2 linked regions of the Homo sapiens genome follow. Each later gene encodes a partner of the first gene's protein in a complex. Each region holds a gene or a part of one and is shown on either strand. Other genes may lie near its edges.

Region 1 (6,231 bases):
CATCATCACTGGTCATCAGAGAAATGCAAATCAAAACTGCAATGAGATACCATCTCATGCCAGTTAGAATGGGGGTCATTAAAAAGTCAGGAAACAACAGATGCTGGAGAGGATGTGGAGAAATAGGAATGCTTTTACACTGTTGGTGGGAGTGTAAATTAGTTCAACCATTGTGGAAGACAGTGTGGCGATTTCTCAAGGATCTAGAACCAGAAATATCATTTGACCCAGCAATCCCATTACTGGGTTGTACCCAAAGGATTATAAATCATGCTACTGTAAAGACACATGCACACGTATGTTTATTGTGGCATTGTTCACAATAGCAAAGACTTGGAACCAACCCAAATGCCCACCAATGATAGACTGGGTAAAGAAAATGTGGCACATATACAACATGGAATACTATGAAGCCATTAAAAAGGATGAGTTCATGTCCTTTGCAGGGACATGGATGAAGCTGGAAACCATCATTCTCAGCAAACTAACACAAGAACAGAAACCAAACACTGCATGTTCTCACTCATAAGTGGGAGTTGAACAATGAGAACACATGGACACAGGGAGGGAAATATCACACACCAGGGCCTGTTTGGGGGGGTTGTGCTAGGGGAGGGATGGCATTAGAAGTCCCTAATGTAGATAACAGGTTGGTGGGCGCAGCAAACCACCATGGCATGTGTATGCCTATGTAACCTGCACGTTCTGCACATGGACTCCAGAACTTTAAGTATAATTTAAAAAATATTAATTAAAATGAGGATTCATTAACGATATGCACATACCTTAAATATTATATCTTTTTTTTTTTTTTTTTTTTTTTTTGAGACGGAGTTTCGCTCTGTCGCCCAGGCTGGAGTGCAGTGGCGCGATCTCGACTCACTGCAAGCTCCGCCTCCCGGGTTCACGCCATTCTCCTGCCTCAGCCTCCCGTGTAGCTGGGACTACAGGCACGCGCCACCATGCCCGGCTAATTTTTGTATTTTTAGTAGAGACGGGGTTTCACCGTGTTAGCCAGGATGGTCTCAATCTCCTGACCTCGTGATCCGCCCGTCTCGGCCTCCCAAAGTGCTGGGATTACAGGCGTGAGCCACCACGCCCAGCCCCTTAAATATTATATCTTAAAGTTAAGTCATTTAAATGCCATTTATTAGTTAGGGCAGGGTCTTTTGAGTATCGTTTAGTGTTTGGAATTTGATTTTATCTTTCTTTTATAAACTATACCCATAATACAGCATCAGCAATTTCCAGTTTGGATTCCTTAAAGTAGAAAAGGAACTTGATATATGCAAAGCAATAGGATCTTTCTCCCTCTCCTTCTGTGACTTTCACCTTTTTTTTAAGTGACTTGCTTTTCTTGACTCTTTAAAAACATTTTATTTAGATTTCATAGAACAATTTTTTTTAACATTCATTTTTATTTACTTTTCCCATGGCAACCCTATGACCTAACACTGTTATCTCCATTTCATAGATGGAGAAAATCAGACTTTAAAAAGATTACCCTATTTTGTGCACATTGAAGTCTAATAAATGTATTGCTAACTGACAACTTGAAGCGAGGTATAGAAAATGCCAAGATATTATTATAGCATAAGATACTAGGTTATTTTTGCATGAAATAGTACAACTATGTTTTTCTAATCTTTGTAGCCAAGTTTATCTCTAGAAATAAAATTTATAATGGAGATATCATTATCAGTATGATTTTGCATACAATCTCTTAAAACAGATTTCAGAGCAACTAATGATCTAGTCAGAAGGCCTGAATTTTAATTCAGACAAAACCAGTTACTAATTCTATGACCTTGAATAAACCATCTATTCTCCTTAGGCCTCTGTACATGGAGGAGATTGAATTTAATGGATTCCCCAAGGTCTTTCTAATCTCTGATTCTCTGTTTACAAACTATTTTACAAACTGTAAAGCCTTCTGATTAAAATGTATTAGACAATAAACATACTTTTTGTGAAACACATTGCAAAATGCAAAATTTATATTGGATTTCCCAGTTTTTAATGAATTGGGTGAAAATTGAATGTAATAAAAAAGTTCACAAATGATTCCATTGTTAATAAAAATTATAAAACATTTCAGAAACATTTTGAAATCAAGCAGCTAAGTTAAAAAAATGAAGCAAAGATAAAAATTTGTTCTTAATGATCTATAACTCTTAAAATCAGTCTGTATACTATCCATCTGTTACACACTGGAATTACTATAAAATTAGCCTAACATGTATTAACAACTAGCAAAAGAGAATCAGAGATTCCTAGGGTGCTTAGATAAGTATTACCAGAAAAGACTCATGTTTCTGTCTGCTGGTCCGTCCACCAGTAGGGTTCATTCTAGACCATGGCAGCAACCCCTTTTTCCCTGGCCAATTCATTTTAATCTACTAAAAGATTATACATAGCTTTAATCACACCACGTCTCTTTTTAAGGGTTTTTGGTGACTCTGTGTTGCCTAGAGAATTAGGTCTTGACCACTTACCCTGATTTTCAAGGCTCTCTCAGGCTGGCCCCTGCCTGTCTTTCCAACCTCATTCCTTATTGTTTCCTTGTATGTGCCTTTCATAGTAGGCTATGTGAACTATTTAATATTTGCTTTCCCAGGACATTCCCTCTTTACCTTGCTCATGTGGTCCTGCTGCAAATATTGCCTTTCCCCTCATCATCCCAGCTTTTCACCCTCTCCATCTTTCCAGACGCAACTCAAATAGCACTCCTCTTACAAAGCCTTCCTTGATCTCCTCAGCCGAAATTTCTCTCTACTGTGGAGTGTAATAGGCCTTTATCTGTGACCCTCATCAGTTCTCCATTCTTGGTAGAGGTTTTTAAGTATATGACTTACTGGGTTGGAAATTTGAGTTAGTCAAATGTATTCCTGTATGCTGAATAGTGAATAGTTTATAACACAGTCTTTTATATAGTAAGGCTTTAATTAAATATGCAAAATTATCACTGGTATACACTATTTCTGGGTTCACTTCACCAAATATTTATTAGATACCTACAGTGTGCAAGTCACTTCAGTACGAAGAGTGAGACGTAAAAGGATTAGTTAATACAAGACAGATGAACAAAAGAAATGGAATAACTTCTCAGTTTCCAAAAACTTGATAAATGAAAATACCACCCAAGAAACCAACAGTCACTCACTCAAGCAAAATGATATTTTTGTTGTCAACTCCAACTGCAGAAGGCGAGAAGGCAGGGATTTGAGACTGTGGAAAGTGAAACTGAATATAAGGAGAGATTACTAGAGTGCATAATTTGAAATGATACTCAAAATTAAAGTTTAATGATAGTATTTGAGAAAAAATAACATAAGTTATGAACCAGGCATGTTTGTATTCAGTCACAGTGAAATTTACAAGAAGAGATTTTCTGTAAAAAGACCAAGGAAAGGCCAAGATTAGAATGAAGAATTACATTGACTTAGGTTGCTTTTTCAGTTTATATCATACTAAATGAGTGCATATGCCAGACTTACAAGTCAGCTCTAAAACACAAGTGGTATCAGGGACCAGTATCAAAATGATCAAAAATGATTTTACGATCACTTAAAAACCCACAAATATTTACTGGCCTACAATGTGGTAGGCCTTTTGCTTGGAACTGGGGATACAATAATGAATCACACAGGTCCCTAACCTGTGCCTCACTAACATACAATGTCATTCACACACACACACACACACACACACACACACACACACACACACACACACATTTGTATTCCAAACATATTTTTATAGTTTTCTAATTTTTTGTTTTGACGTAATTGTCAACCAGAATTGGTAATGTTTTGGGTATTGCCAGAATTGAGGGCTTGGTGTAGATGGGAGGTGGCAGGTGGGAGTTGGGGGCTGGGGAGGTGAGAGAAAGGTGTCTAGTATGCCCCAAGGATGAATGGTGATACCAATCACTGAGAGCAAAGGATGGGGAGAGGGGAAAGGATACGTTTCCTGTTGGGTTTGAGCTGCCTTTGAGCCATCTTAGATGTTGAGTAGGTGTTGGATATGGGACTGAAACTAGATAGGGAACTGGAGCCAAACACAGAGGCTCAGACTAGAAATATAAATGTGGGAGCCATTTAGGTTTGGGTAGTGGTTGAAGCTCTCTTTGAATGAAATGGTGTAAGTAGCTGATTAAGTGTTAGAATGCAAACAGCTAGAATCCATGTTTCAGGTATTAAGTTTTAAACAAGTACTAAAACAGCTTTTGAAACTCATATATTTATAGCTTTGCCATGCATTAATGCAATATAAATTTCCTTCCTTTACAGGTGGATGATTGTGGCTTTTCTTTGAATCATCCTAATCAGTTCTTTTGTGAGAGCCAACGTATTCTAAATGGTGGTAAAGACATAAAGAAGGAACCTATCCAACCAGAAACTCCTCAACCCAAACCAAGTGTCCAGAAAACCAAGGATGCATCATCTGCTCTGGCCTCTTTAAATTCCTCTCTGGAAATGGATATGGAAGGACTAGAAGATTACTTTAGTGAAGATTCTTAGGCAGTTTTATAACCCTTTTTCCTCAATAGCCTGTTTCCTGTTTTTAAGATTTTGCCTTTGTTGTTGAAAAAGGGTTTCACTCTGTCACCAAGGCTTAGTGCAGTGACACAATTACAGCTGATTGCAGCCTTGACCTTCCCAGCTCAAGTGATCCTCCTACCTCAGCCTCCCAAGTAGTTAGGACCACAGGTGTGCACCTCATATCCAGATAATTTTTTTCAATTTTTTTTTGTAGAGGTGGGGGGTCTCCCTATGTTGCCCAGGCAGATCTCAGACTCCTGGGCTCAAGCGATCCTCACACCTCAGCGTCCCAGAGTGCTGGGATTACGGTTGTGAGCCACTGTGCCTGGCCTTTTTTTTTTTTTTAACCTTTTTGTTTAACTTCTCTCTTCACTGCATCCCAATCCATCTACAGGCATGCACACTTATTAGGAAAGGAGGTTTGAGGTAACAACAGAGACTTTCACTATATTTTGCTTTGACAGAAGGAAAGAGGAGGAGTTTCTATTAAAATCTGTCACTTGAGTGATGTCATTTAAGTCCTATTTTAGGAGATAAAAACAGCTTTGGGGACTGGTTAAAGTCCCCCAGAAACTACAATAAAGAACAACTTTTGTTTTAACTCTTAATCACTTTGTAATTTTGACTCAATCCTTTTCTGGACCATTTTTGTTAATAAATATCAAAGTGTACATGACAGTGTCTGCGTATAATTGGGAGAGTCTTATGTCGTAACAGATTGGACATTACTTCAGTTTTAAAATGGTAATTTGGAGTATCCAACACACTGCTGATCACTAATGAAGATTTTAAACTTTTCTTTACCTTTTTTTAAGAGTTGACCTATTTGTGGTTATTCTACATCAGGCACCTTTGAGTGGCACCAGACCCTCCTGAGTGAACTGTGACTTGGGAATTAACATAAAGTATAGCCAGTTATATTTATTAAGGAATAATAGGGATATTTTATTATGTAAAATAATGGCACGTCTTATCTGCTGCCATTACTCTGGGGACAGGTTCATGAAGAATAGACAATTACCAAGCAAGAAGGTTGTACATATAAAATAAAGTGTTTATTTTACCCTCCAACTTCCATACCTTATTACTTCTGTAGTTGCTGTGAATTACCAAATAGATTTGGTAAATTAAATTAATTTACTTGAGCAATGAATAGTGATACTTATAGTAACCCCCTCCTTTCAGTGCCAGCAATAGAATTTAATAAATGTTGTGGATGATTACAAACATACGAGATCAATGCCCTGTTCTCTCTGCCTGCTTTTGTCAAGGGAGTAAGGTGAAGTTGATGATCCCTGGCACGTATGCCTTGTGGAGCAGTGCCATTGTGGATACCCTCATCTAAATAGTGATTTCCTCCTGGGGCTCTACTCACTCACCAATAGGATTTGGGGTGCTCAGGAAACCCTGTTTGAAACATAGTTCTTCCTCATCTATTACCTTGGAATATGTGAAAAGTATTCGTCTATTTCTGTCTTCTTTTCCTGGTAAAGAGGGATACTTTTATCCTTTTGAATCAGATAGTAACTAAATTGAAAAGAGCACATTGTATTCAGAAAACTAGACTGTTAGCAGCACCATATTTTTAATCATGTGATAAACTGCATCATGATGAAAAGGATTAAACAGGATCAGATCATCAGAAACTAAAAATGTCAACTAATTGAGTTTTCATTTTAGGCTTCTG
Region 2 (8,510 bases), on another chromosome or scaffold:
TCTCCGTTAGGGACATGGCAGCCAAATCATCAGCAGATTTATGGTGAACACGGAAGCAAAAGAACAGCTGTCAATCGTACAGGTGAAATATTTAATAGTGATAAGCTAAAATCACTGACATATCATATTTACCTCTATAGCAGAGGGACACCTGTTCCCAAGACCTGACAAGGGTCAGGCAACCTCAGCCTGGCACTGTTTGTATGGAAAGGCCAACATTCACACTTTTCTTTTTTTTTGAGATGGAGTCTCACTTTCTCGCCCAGGCTGAAGTGCAATGGCATGATCTCAGCTCACTGCAACCTCCGCCTCCTGGGTTCAAGTGTTTCTTCTGTCTCAGCCTCTCGAGTAGCTGGGATTACAGACACCCACCATCATGCCTAGCTAATTTTTGTACTTTTGTAGCGATGGGGTTTCACCATGGTGGCCAGACTGGTCTCGAACCCCTGACCTCCAGTGATCCTCCCACCTCGGCCTCCCAAAGTGCTGGGATTACAGGTGTGAGCCACCATGCCTGGCCACACTTTGACTATTTTATCATGCTGCCATTGATGCATGGCCTAACAGTGACTGAACAATTTCCATGTGATAAGTACTGTTCTAAGCATTTTACGTATCTCTAGCCTGGACATATTGTTTGCTCAACATTTCACTCCAACTCATTTAGCGTGGAATTCACAGTCACAAACTTTTTTTTTTTTTTTTTTTTCAGACGGAGTCTGGTTCTGTCATCCAGCCTGGAGGGCAGTGGTGTAATCTTGGCTCACTGCAACTTCCACCTCCCGGGTTCAAGCGATTCTCCTGCCTCAGCCTCCTGAGTGGCTGGGATTATAGGCACCACCACCATGCCCAGCTAATTTTTTGAGTAGAGATGGAGTTTCGCTGGTCTCGAACTCCTGACCTCAAGTGATCCACCTGCCTCAGCCTCCCGAAGTGCTGGGATTACAGGTGTGAGCCACTGCACTCGGCCTCACAGTCACAAACTTTGATTCACAATTTAGTCTCCTAAGTATTTCCATAGCAGGAATGGGGTATCCTAAATATGGGATTTCAGTCATTGGAAGGGTATCTACTTCAATAGTAAAGTAAACAAATTTGCACCTGGCTTACGCATCAGTCTACTGACAGCTGGGTTACCATGAGTCAGACTCCGGAATATGATCAATTCTGGATACACAGACAAATTACATAAAATTCTGGATCTGTGAAGCTGTTAACCAGATAAAACCGTGGTGGTCCCATTGGTATTGCAATTGAGAGAGCCAACCACACTCCCTTATTCAGAGATCTTTCAACAACTATTAACATGCCAGGGTGCTGGGAAAACAGCAGCAAGTAAAAACAAAGTCTCTATTCTCAAGGAGCTTCCATCTAATGGAGGGAAGGCCGACTAAAACAAAAAAGTAAGTATATAACATGTTTGGTGGTAATAAAGCAAGAGAATAATAAGGAGAAAAATAAAGCAAGAAAATAAAACAGAAGAAGGGCTTTGTTCTTTTAGGCAGGCTTGTTCCCTGACAAGGAGACATAGGAAATGAACCCATATTTGGCACGGCAGAAGCAGAGAGCAAAGGGGAGCAGGGAAAGAGGACAGAAGGAGGAGGGGGCCAGCTCCTACAGAACTTCACATATGCTGGTTCAAACTTTGCATATCAGGAGGAAAGACGAAAAGCCAGTGGGAGAGATGTGAGCAAGAAAACCTGACCTTTTGCTGGAAAGGAGCACTCTGGCTGCTGGGTGGAGAGGTGGTTAGAGGTGGATATGGCAGAAAGAAGCCAATGGACTAGTTAGGAGGCTGTCCCAATCATTCAGGAGACAATGATGCTGTGGACCTGGTGGTAGCAGTGGAAATGGTGAGAGGTGGCCAGATCCTGGAGAGGGATGACAGGACTGGTAGCTAAGTTGGATGTGGGGTGTGAGAGAAAAAGGATTTAAGGAGGTCTCCAAGGTTCTTGGCCTGAGTCAATGGAAGAACGGAGGTGTCCTTCACTGGGATATGGACTCAGAAAACCACTTTAGGAGGAAAATCAAATGAGTTATAGTCTCTCCAATTTTAAGAAACTCTAACAAACACCTAATTATTTCTTTTAATATTATATGCACCTGGTTTTGTGTTAGCAACTTCATGGGGCACATTTTTGGCCCTCTTACTCTCCACAGGCATATCTAAACTATTTACCTTCTTTCTTCCTGAGACAGGGTCTCACTTTGTCATCCAGGCTGTAGAGCAGCGGCATGATCTCTGGTCACTGATCCTCCTGCCTTGGTCTCCCGGAGTGCTGGGATTACAGGCATGAGCCACTGCACCCAGCCCTTACCTTCTTTCTTATGATGTAATTTACTTTGAATAATTAAGGCTCCCTCCATGTTTATGAATTTCTACAAATTTATTTAGTTAGTATAAAGAATAATTACTGGGCTGGGCACGGTGGCTCACATCTGTAATCCCAGCACTTTGGAGGCCGAGGCAGGTGGATCACCGCAGGTGAGGAGTACGAGACCAGCCTGGCTGACATGGTGAAACCCCGTCTCTACTAAAAATACAAAAATTAGCTGGCCGTAGTGGCGCATGCCTGTAATCCCAGCTACTCAGGAGGCTGAGGCAGAATTGCTTGAACCCGGGAGGCGGAGGTTGCAGTGACCCGAGATCGTGCCATTGCACTCCAGCCTGGGCAACAAGAGGAAAACTCCATCTCAAAACAACAACAACAACAACAAAAAAGAATAATTACTATTACTGAATACATTGCATAGGGCAATGTAAATTACCTCTTTCTTATGATGTAGTTTACTTTGAATAATTAAGGCTCACTCCATGTTTATGAATGTCTACAAACTTATTTAGTTAGTATAAAGAATAGTTACCATTACTGAATACATTGCATAGGGCCTGATACTTTACCTATTTATTTCCTCTTCAAGCCCTCCAAGATGGGGGATATTGTGCACTGGCTGTCAGCTTCTTGAGGGCAGAGCCCATCCATGTCTGTTTCATTCACCATTGTTTACTCAATGTCTAGTGCAGTACATAGTTGTTGTTGTTGTTTTTTTTTTTTTTTTTGAGACGGAGTCTCGCTCTGTCGCCCAGGCTGGAGTGCAGTAGCGCGATCTCGGCTCACTGCAAGCTCTGCCTCCCAGGTTCCCGCCATTCTCCTGCCTCAGCCTCCCAAGTAGCTGGGACTACAGGCGCCCACCACCACGCCCGGCTAATTTCTTTTTTTGTATTTATGGTAGAGACAGAGTTTCACCATGTTAACCAGGATGGTCTCGATCTCCTGACCTCGTGATCCGCCTGCCTCAGCCTCCCAAAGTGCTGGGATTACAGGCATGAGCCACTGCGCCTGGCCACATAGTTGTTGCTGGATAACTGAATGAATGAATCCTGATATTATGGATAAGGAAACTGTCTCAGAGAGATAAAACAACTCACTCCAGGTCACCTAGGTCTTCTGACTCAGACTTTGAAGGCAATGCTTTTCCACTACCCTACTTGACCTTTCACACTGGGATCCAACACAGAACTGAATTATTCAATTATAGTATAAAACTATGAAACTATTCAAAAAGGGCAATTATGGAGAAATTATGTTTATAGAAATGTTTTATGTTGTGCTGAGAAAAGCAGGATAACTATATGTTTATAAGGACTGCCATTATGTAAAACATTTAGACATATGATCAGAAAGGAAGATGTATAAGTGGAAATATAGTAGGAAATGCATGAGAGTGGTTGATTTTTTCCCTCAGATCTTCAAATGTTGTGAAACTATTTTAAAATGTTACTTGTAAAATGCAATGTCCAAACACTGTTTACTTACCTTTGAAGGTGTGGTGTAAGAGTTCAAGAGGATTTCCTCTTCTTCTTCCACTTCAATTCTAAGAACACTGGTTAAGAAAAACAATAATGGCTGGGCACGGTAGCTCATGCCTGTAATCCCAGCACTTTGGGAGGCCGAGATGGGCGGATCACGAGATCAGGAGACAGAGACCATCCTGGCTAACACAGTGAAACCCCGTCTCTACTAAAAAAAATACAAAAAATTAGCCGGGCGCCTGTAGTCCCAGCTACTCGGGAGGCTGAGGCAGGAGAATGGCATGAACCCAGGAGACGGAGCTTGCAGTGAGCTGAGATCACACCACTGCACTCCAGCATGGGCGACACAGCGAGACTCCATCTCAAAAAAAAAAAATAATAATAATAATAATAAACTTTCATATAAGGCAAGGGCTGATTGCTAGAAGAAATCTCAATATTAGGCAATTTTTACTATTATTATTATTGAGATGGGGTTTCCTCGTCGTCCAGGATGGAGTGCAGTGGCCTGATCTCAGATTACTGCAACTTCCACATCCCAGGTTCAAGAGATTTTCTCACCTCAGCCTACCAACTAGCTGGATCTACAGGCGTACATCACCACACCCAGCTTATTATTATTATTTTTTAATTTGTACTTTGGCCGGGCACGGTGACTCACGCCTGTAATCCCAGGACTTTGGGAGGCCTAGGCAGGCGGATCACCTGAGGTCAGGAGTTCGAGACCAGCTGGCCAACATGGTGAAACCCTGTCTCTACCAAAAAAAATACAAAATTATCCAGGTGTGGTGGTGTGCACCTGTAATCCCAGCTACTCAGGAGGCTGAGGCAGGAGAATCACTTGAGATTGGGAGGCAGAGGTTGCAGTGAGCTGAGATTGCACCATTGCACTTCAGCCTGGGCAAAAAGAGCGAAACTCCAACTCAAAAAAAAAAAAAAATTTGTACTTTTGATAGAGACAGGGTTTCACCATGTTGCCCAGGTTGGTCACAAATTCCTGGGCTCAAGTGATCTGCTTGCCTCGGCCTCCAAAAGTGCTGGGATTACAGGCCTGAGCCACCGTGCCCGGCCTTATTATTTGTTTTTAAATTACACATGCGACTACAGACAAATTATAAAATACAACATGTAGCTTGGTGCAAAGACCTTCAGCAGAAAAGGATACAGCTCTTGAATGGAAACAATGTCTCTAGCTCCTGCATGGCCACTGTCCTTGCAGGTACTATGCCTGGCTTTCGATAATCTTTTGCTCAGAAACTGAAAAAGAAAAGATAGTGAATACAGTACTTCATAGTCAAGTAATAGCAGAGGTGTTTTCAAAAGCCTTGAGATAATAAAAGGTATTCAAAATATAATCAAAGATCTAACATTCCTCAAAGAATTAAGATACACACAGACTAAAAACAAAGACATCCCATGACTGTCTATAACATATAACAATCCTAATAATACCAATTATTTGGTGAAGACTTATCACCTGCTGGGCATAGTTTTAAGTGCTTTATGTCCATTCTCATTTCTTTTTTTTTTGAGATGGAGTCTCGCTCTGTCCCAGGCTGGAGTGCAGTGGCGCAATCTCAGCTCACTGCAACCTCCACCTCCTCGGTTCAAGCGATTCTCCTTCCTCAGCTTTCCGAGTACCTGGGATTACAGGCGCCTGCCACCATGCCCAACTAATTTTTGTATTTTTAGTAGAGACAGGGTTTCACCACGTTGGCCAGGCTGGTCTTGAACTCCTGACCTTGTGATCTGCCTGCCTCGGCCTCCCAAAGTTCTGGGATTATGGGCATGAGCCACGGCGCCCAGCCCCATTTAATTCTTATAACAATCATAAAAAATACAGATTATTAGACCCAATGTCAGAAAAGGAAACTGAGGCTCAGGGACATAGTTTGTCCAAGCTCACACTGGGACTGGAATCCAGGCCTGACTCGAAAGCCCACACTCCTCTCAATATATCACAATGCCTCCCCTGTAGAGCAGAAATGGAGAATCACATTATTAGTTTGCTTTCATTTTGTTCTTACCTCATGCTCAAAAGAGTTCAGGATCTCTGAGGTAAGGCCAACTTTATGTGTGCTGGTGCAGAAGGCTATAAGCTCGCCTACCATTCCCTCCTCATTCTGTCCATACTGAACACAAAGCTCTACCACTGTAGAAAGGAAAATTGGACAAGTAAAAACTTAGTTCATTTCTCGAAGTTTCACCTAGAAAAGCAAAAATAATCCTGGTTTACTCCATCAATGTTTATTCAGAATCTATTAGTGCCAGGCACTGTTTTGGGCAATGAGAAAACAGAAGCATCCTTGTCCTTACAAAGCTCACCACTGAGGGGAGACAAAAGAGGATAAGGGCAGAATCAGGGGGACCAATTAAAGAATCATGGAAAAGCCCAGGTGAGAGATGATGGTGGCTTGGATCAAGGTGGTGGCAGTGGAGATGGCGAGAAGTGGCTGGACTCTGGATAGGACTTTACATGCTGGAAGTGAAGCCAGTGGGATCTGCTAACTGAATGTAAGGTATGAGAAAAAGAAAGTCAAGGATGATGCTGATATTTTTAGCCTGTGCAACAGGAAGAGTGGCGTCCCTATTAACTGAGATGGGGAAAAGAGCCAGAGGAACTACTCTGAGGAGAGAGAGGAGATACCAGGAGCTTAGTTTTAGACATGCAGAGTTTGAGGTGCCATTTAGACATCCAACTGGAGACAGCAGGCTGAACAAACCAGCCTGTAGTTCAGGCAAGGGTTGTGGGCGGAGGTATAAATTTGGGAACCATCAGTAAATACATGGGATATAAAGCTATGAGACCCCAGGTGAGATCGCCAAGGGAGTGAGCGTATCTAGAAGGGAGAAAAGATCCCAGGCTTGAGTCTTGGGGCGCCTTAGGGCCTCTGAGGATGAATCGGCAAAGCCTGAGAAGCGGTGACACAAGCAAAGCTGAAGAAAAACTAGGAGTAAGCCGGATGCAGTGGCTCACGCCTGTAATCCAGTATTTTGTGAGGTTGAGGTGGGCAGACTGTTTGAACCCAGAAGTTTGAGACCAGCTTGGGCAACAGGGTGAAACCGTTTCTATAAAAAATACAACAATTAGGTGGGCTTGGTGGCATGTGCCTGTAGTTACAGCTACTTGGGGGCTGAGGTGGAAGGATTGCTTGAGCCAAGGAGGTTGAGGCTGCAGTGAGCTGTGATTTGCCCATTATACTCCAGCCTGGGCAACAGAGCAAGACCCTGTCTCAGAAAAAAAAGAAAGAAAAACTAGTAGTGTCTAAGAAGCTAAAAGAAAAATGTGTTTAAAAAAAGAAAAAATGACAAACAGTGTCAAGTGCCGGTGCTAATTCAATTCAAGATGAGGACTGAAAATTCATCACTGGTTTTAGCATGGTGAAGGTCACTGGTGACCTTGAGTAGAGCAGCTTTGGTGAAGTGGTGGCAACAAAAGAACTTACTGAAATGGATTTAAGGAGGAAATATTTAAAGATGGCAAGGCCCCCCCCCTTTTTTTTTTGGAGACAGAGTTGCACTCTGTTGCCAGGCTGGAATGCAGTGGCACGATCTCGGCTCATTGCAACCTCCACCTCCCCGATTCAAGCGATTCTCCTGTCTCAGCCTCCCAAGTAGCTGGGACTACAGGCATGCGCCACCATGCCCAGCTAATTTTTGTATTTTAAGTAGAGACCGGGTTTCACCACGTTGGCCAGGATGGTCTCCATCTCTTGACCTTGTGATCCGCCCTCCTCCGCCTCCCAAAGTGCTCGGATTACAGGCGTGAGCCACCGCACCCGGCCGACCCTTTTGAGGTCTGCTGTAATTGGGAAGGAGAGAACTGGAGTGGGAAGTAGGGTCAACAGAGTATTTTAAAGGCAAGATTGGAAGCACATTTCTATACTAGTAGGAAAAAAATCTTGTAGCAAGGAAAATAGAAAATATGTAAGACAGGAGAATTACCAGTGATGTCCTTAATTGCTTCAGAAGGAATGGGGTTTAGGACTCAAGTGGAGGACTTGGATTTTGCTAGGAATACGGAAAGCTTATTCATTATAATAGGAAAGAAGGCTAGGTATATGCCACAGATATGGGTCAGTGAGACATAATGGTGGTAGCTGATCGAAGTTTTCTAATGCTTCTACATTTTTCAGCAAATAATAGAAATTTGTCAGCTGAGAGTGAGGGTGGGACAGAAGGATGTTACAGGAGAAGGTGGAAAACAATCATCTGGAAGACTCAGAGTAAAGAGACCAGGGGCCTGGCGCAGTGTAATCCCAGCACTTTGGGAGGCCAGGGTGGGCGGATCACCTGAGGTCAGGAGTTGAAGACCAGCCTGGCCAACATGGTGAAACCTTGTCTCTACTGAAAATACAAAAAGTAGAACAGGTGTGGTGGCTCACACCTATAATCCCAGCACTTTGGGAGGCCGAGGTGGGAGGATCACTGGAGGTCAGGGGTTCGAGATCAGCCTGCCCAACATGGCGAAACCCCATCTCTACTAAAAATACAAAAAATTAGCCGGGCGTGGTGGCGGGAGCCTGTAATCCCAGCTACTCGGGAGGCTGAGGCAGGAGAACCGCTTGAACTCGGGAGGCAGAGGTTGCAGTGAGCCAAGATTGCACCATTGCACTCCAGCCTGGGCAATGAGAAACTCCATCTCAAAAAACAAAACAAACAACAACAAAAAAAACAGGGAAATACGGTTGACTGT

The links. The genes of interacting proteins can lie anywhere in the genome.
Region 2: PRIM2 (region 1) and POLA2 share a complex: the UniProt entries of both Homo sapiens proteins name them as parts of the alpha DNA polymerase complex.

Annotation. Positions count from the first base shown.
Region 1 is NC_000006.12:57,641,636-57,647,866, forward strand, and holds the end of PRIM2 (DNA primase large subunit), read left to right. Parts: intron 1-4,292; coding exon 4,293-4,523; 3' UTR 4,524-5,215; downstream 5,216-6,231. UniProt on the Homo sapiens protein: Regulatory subunit of the DNA primase complex and component of the DNA polymerase alpha complex (also known as the alpha DNA polymerase-primase complex) which play an essential role in the initiation of DNA synthesis.
Region 2 is NC_000011.10:65,264,038-65,272,547, reverse strand, and holds part of POLA2 (DNA polymerase alpha subunit B), read right to left. Parts: intron 5,967-8,510; coding exon 5,842-5,966; intron 5,072-5,841; coding exon 4,980-5,071; intron 3,877-4,979; coding exon 3,819-3,876; intron 1-3,818. UniProt on the Homo sapiens protein: Accessory subunit of the DNA polymerase alpha complex (also known as the alpha DNA polymerase-primase complex) which plays an essential role in the initiation of DNA synthesis.